Regions from separate parts of the Homo sapiens genome. Here region 1 is linked to region 2. The links come from fine-mapping of genetic effects on gene expression. Tissue or cell type: whole blood. Region 2 holds a variant in brackets; the other region holds the start of a gene. Each region is shown on its reference strand, or each on the opposite one. Region 1 holds the start of MAN1A1 (mannosidase alpha class 1A member 1). Region 2 has its middle 47 kb from the start of MIR607.

Evidence for each region.
Region 1: MAN1A1 starts here. The variant in region 2 is fine-mapped to the expression of MAN1A1 in whole blood (TOPMed, PIP 0.90).

The regions. Positions count from the first base shown.
Region 1 is chr6:119,348,261-119,350,760 of GRCh38, reverse strand. It overlaps MAN1A1 (mannosidase alpha class 1A member 1), which reads left to right and starts at 1,000. Exons shown (of 13, transcript NM_005907.4): 1 at 1,000-1,219; 2 at 1,474-2,298. The coding sequence starts at 1,696. RefSeq lists silencers at 440-1,079, 1,590-1,789, 1,850-1,969 and an enhancer at 2,180-2,500.
Region 2 is chr10:96,780,447-96,783,462 of GRCh38, reverse strand. No RefSeq gene overlaps it. Among named protein-coding and RNA genes, the nearest start is that of MIR607, 47 kb to the left of the region's middle. The variant A/C (reference allele first, on the strand shown) is at 1,450.

The sequences.
Region 1 (2,500 bases), not on the chromosome of region 2:
GCTTTCAGAAATGCGAAGTCAGTCAACGTTTTCCTCTCTGATAACCCCTTATTTGTGGAGCAACAGGAGAATTACAACACATTTTGGAAAATAATTTCTATTGGACCAACTCCTCACTTCGCTGGAAGTAGTCGGATCCAAGACTTAATTTCAACACAGTGTTCGACTTATTGCTTGAAGCTACCGCAGCATAAAACTCGTCTTCGAATGGAAAATTTGACCAACTTCTATGAGGTAAATGAATAGTGAAAGTACGGGTGGGCGGGAGAGACATACAAGTTTTTTCGGTTTTTTGTTTTTTGGGGGAAGAAAGGGCGCATACGAAAAAAGTCCTAAGCAAGCACAGAACTGTGTCTCTTAGGATGTAAAAGGATGTTATACCAGAGAGCTCAAAAGCTCCCAGGGTCACGGCTCCCCTAACCGAGGGACTTGGGGTTTCACTGCTACCAGGCACCCGGGGAACCCCGGCCTTGGATAAAAAGAGGGTAACTGGAGTAAAGCCGTGCTTCTGAACGACCCAGCGCCCAGGACCCCCTGCCAGACCCCGCCTTTCCCGGGACCCCCTCGGGAGCGCCCCCGACCGCCCCGCACGGGTCGGAGGAGGAGGCAGAGAGGTCCCGCGCGGACCCAGGCGCCTCCCGGGCCAGTCGAGGATCAACCACCCCGGGGACCCCTGCCGAGGCCAGCGCAGGATAAACTCCCCGACCCCGAACTCTGCCTGCCGCTTCTCGGCGCTGGGCCTCAGCCACGGGTTCGACCGTCCTCCTCACCGCGGCTCCCGCCTACCTCGCGCCTCCCGGCCCCGCGACCTCCCCGCCGCCGGCCGGGCCCCGCCGAGGCTGCGCTTCCCGTAAACTCCCCGCCCCGCGCATCCCCCTCCTCGCCTCGGCCCCGCCCCCGCGGGACCCTGGGCGGCGCGTGATTGGCCCGGCCGCGCCGTCACTCTCCGGCCGCGTCGCCTCCCTCGCTTTCCACCGCCCCAAGACCGGCAGTGAGATTAGTGCTCGCGGGGCCGCGGCGGAGTGTACCGTGCTGCTCTACTCGCTGCCATTCGCCCGCAGGTCGGCGCGCTCGCCCACCTGAGCCGCGCCGGGGCTGCGGGACCGTGGGACAGCGCGCTCAGCCCAGCCTAGGAAAGAGGCAGCAGTCTCAGCGCGGAGATGGGGAGCGGGCGAAGTTGACGAGTCTCCCGCCCACGCTGCGCCCCTCCTGCCCAGAGGTGCGCTGCCCCTCCCCGAGGTGCTCGCGCGCTGCCCTGACCCCTTCCTGCGCGGGACACCCCTCCCCTACCCACGGGACCTGATAACTTCACCCCAAGTCCAGAGAGTGGGCTGCGAGGGCGGTGCCCGGACTGGACAGGACTCTGCTTAAGGGGAGCGGTCCTGGAGGCTCGCCAGGAGTCGGAGGGCGGAGACCCGCTGGAAACTTTATCATCGCCGTAATTACTACGTTTTACTGTTTCTCTCCCCGCAGGGGCTGCAGCCAGCGGTCTGTCGCGCGTGCCTGTGTGCCCGAGGAGCCGCCCCGGGGAGAAGACCCGGCGCGGAGTTGTTCCCCCAGGGAGGATCCGCAGCCCAGCCGAGGGGGTCGGGCGGCCTGGCTACGCAGGACCCAGCCCCGCAGCCGCGGACTCCCAGCGGCGGCGAAGTTTGGCTGCTGAGCGGCGCGGCGCCGGACCACTGGACAGCGGGAGCGATGCCCGTGGGGGGCCTGTTGCCGCTCTTCAGCAGCCCCGCGGGCGGCGTCCTGGGCGGGGGGCTCGGCGGCGGCGGTGGCAGGAAGGGGTCGGGCCCCGCCGCCCTCCGCCTGACGGAGAAGTTCGTGCTGCTGCTGGTATTCAGCGCCTTCATCACGCTCTGCTTCGGGGCGATCTTCTTCCTGCCAGACTCCTCCAAGCTGCTCAGCGGGGTCCTGTTCCACTCCAGCCCCGCCTTGCAGCCGGCCGCCGACCACAAGCCCGGGCCCGGGGCGCGCGCCGAGGACGCGGCCGAGGGGCGAGCCCGGCGCCGCGAGGAGGGGGCACCCGGGGACCCGGAGGCCGCCCTGGAGGACAACTTGGCCAGGATCCGCGAAAACCACGAGCGGGCTCTCAGGGAAGCCAAGGAGACCCTGCAGAAGCTGCCCGAGGAGATCCAAAGAGACATCCTACTGGAGAAGAAGAAGGTGGCCCAGGACCAGCTGCGTGACAAGGCGCCGTTCAGAGGCCTGCCCCCGGTGGACTTCGTGCCCCCAATCGGGGTGGAGAGCCGGGAGCCCGCCGACGCCGCCATCCGCGAGAAAAGGGCAAAGATCAAAGAGGTGAGTGGGCCGCGCCAGAAATCCCTCCCGACCGGCCGTGTTTTTCAGGGAGAAACGGCAAGCCTTTGAAACTCTGAAGACTGCAACAATGCAATGTATGGGGAGATGGAGGTTTGCCCCTTCCACCAGGTGCTGTGTCAAAAGCTCTTTCTTTTCCTGTTTCCAATATAGTAGTAGATGTGTCCAGTAAGATCTAAGGTCA
Region 2 (3,016 bases):
TCTTATACTATACATGAAAACGTATCTCATTTTAAGAAAAACTGTGATAGGTAAAAGATATATACTATAAAACCTAAAGCAACTTTTAAAATAAAAAAATAGCAAATAAGCAAATAAAATACCTTGGAATCATAACAAATATTTATTTAATGCAAAAAAAAGGGCAAGGGAAAAAAGTGAAAATAAGAGACAGATGAGGAAAAAAGAAATGCAAATAGCAAGATAACAGATTTAAACTTAACCGTATCACTAATCACCTTCAATATAAATAGTTTCAACTAGGGGTCAGTGAACTGTAGCTCGAAACCAAATCATGGCTGTTTCCTGGTTTGTTTGCTTGTTTGCTTGTTTTTTGAGACAGAGTCTCACTCTGTTGCCCAGGTTGGAATGCAGTAGCATGAATATGGCTCACTGTAGCCTCGATCTCCCAGGCCCAAGTGATCCTCCCACTTCAGCTTCCCAGGTACAATTTTTTTTTGTATTTTTTTGTAGAGTCTGATCTCAAACTCCTGGGTTCAAGTGATTCTCCTGCTTTGGCCTCACCAAATTACTGGGATTACAGTCATGAGCCACCATACCCCGCCATCTGTTGCCTGTTTTTGCGGTGCTCATGAACTAAAAGCAGTTTTTACATTTTTTAATGGTAAATTTTTTTCTATAACTGACTATATAATTGCTTCAATTTTGCCTCTTGTCCCACAAAGCCTAAAATATTTACTCAATATTTTGAGTAAGATATTTACTCAATATTTTGAGTAAGATATTTACTCAATATTTTGAGTAAGATATTTACTCAATATTTTGAGTAAGATATTTACTCAATATTTTGAGTAAGATATTTACTCAATATTTTGAGTAAGATATTTACTCAAAGGGTGAGCCTTTGAGTTTGCCCACCTGTGTGGTATAAATATCCCAATTATAAGGCAGAAAGTATAGCATTGGATGGACATTTGGGTAGTTTCCACTTTATGGCCATTATAAATAATGAAGCTGTTAACACTCATGTTCAAGTTTTTTTGTGAACATATAATATGTTCTCAATTCTTTCGGATATATGCATAAGGAACAGAACTCCTGAATCATGTGGCACCTCTATGTTTAACCTTTTGAGGAATGGCCAGACTATTTTCTTTTCTTTTCTTTTCTTTTTTTCTAAGATAGGGTCTTGATCTGTCACCTAGGCAGGAGTGCAGTGGTGTGATTTCGATTCACAGCAATCCCCACCTCTCTTGCTCAAGCAATCCTCCCACCTCAGCCTCCCGAGTACCTGGAACTACTGGAACTACAGGTGCATGCCACCATGCCTGGCCAATTTTTTTTTTTTTTTTGGTAGGGATAGGGTTTCACCATGTTGCCCAAGCTGGTCTTGAACTCCTGGCCTCAAGCGATCCACCTGCCTCGGCCTTGCAAAGTGCTAGGGTTACAGGCGTGAACCACCACGCCTGG[A/C]CAGACTATTTTCTAAAGTGGCTGCTCCGTTTTACTTACCTACCACTTGTGCATGAAGTTTCCAATTTCTCCACACTCTCACCAACACTTATTATCTATTTTTATTATAGCCATCCTAGGAAGTGTGAACTGGTATCTCAATATGGGTTTGATTTGCATTTTTCTGATGGCCAAAGGAGTTGAGATTTTCATTTTTTTATCGGCCATTTGTATATTTTCTTTGGAGAAATGTATACTCAGATCCTTTGCCCATTTAAAAATTGGATTATTGGGCCGGGTGCAGTGGCTCACGCCTGTAATCCCATCACTTTGGGAGGCCGAGGTGGGCGGATCACGAGGTCAGGAGATCAAGACCATCCTGGCTAACATGGTGAAACCCCGTCTCTACTAAAAATACAAAAAAATTAGCCGGGCACGGTAGCGGCTGCCTGCAGTCCCAGCTACTTGGGAGGCTGAGGCAGGAGAATGGCGTGAACCCGGGAGGCAGAGCTTGGGTGAGCTGAGATCGCGCCACTGTACTCCAGCCTGGGCAACAGAGCGAGACTCCGTCTCAAAAAAAAAAAAAACAATTTTGAATTATTTGTCTTATTGTTATTGGGTTGTAAAAGTTCTTTATATATGCTGGACACTAGACTCCTATCAGCTATATAATTTACAAATATTTTTTGTGGGTTTTTTTTTGCTTTCATGATGGTTTCCTTTGAAGCACAAATGTTTTTAATTTTGATGATGCCCAATTTACCTATTTTTTTCTTTGATTGCTTGTGCTTTTGGTATAGTATCTAAGAAATCATCATCTAATCCAAAGTCATAAAAATGTACACGTATTTTCTTCAAAGTTTTTTTTAACTTATATTTTAGTTTCAGGGGTACATGTGCAAGTTTGTTATATAGGTAAACTGTGTGTCACGAGGGAGACTTTTTTTTTGAGACAGGGTCTCACTCTGTTGCCCAGGCTGGAGTGCAGTAGTATGATCATGGCTCACTGTAGCCTCGACTTTCTGGGCTCAGGCGATTCCCCCACCTCAGCCTCTCGAGTATGAGTCCTCCCAACTTGTTATTATTGTTTCAAGACTGAAAAAAAAAAGAGGTTCTGTGATATCTCGCATAATTTTAGCATCAGCTTATACTGCAAAGAAGTCACCTGGGAAATGGATAAGGATTGCATTGGATCTGCAGATCAATTTGAGGAGCACTGCCATCTTTACAATATGAAGTCTCCAGTGCCCACTCTTTCTCACTTTCTCTCTCTGATCTGACTGTTCATCTCCACCAGCTTCTTCCCACTCCTGCCCACTTTAGCTTGCTCCAGGAAATTAAAAATTTGTCTTTCTTTTTTGTAGAGACCAGGTCTCACTGTGTTGCCCAGGTTGGTCTTGAACTCCTGGGCTCAAACAATCCTCCTGCCTCAGACTTCTAAAGTATTGGGATTACAGGCATGAGTGACTGTGCTCAGTTACTAAAATTCATCTTTCTTTCTTTTCTTTTTTTCTTTTTGAGACGGAGCTCACTCTGTTGACAGGCTGGAGTGCTGTGGCACGATCTCAGCTCACTGCAACCTCCGCCT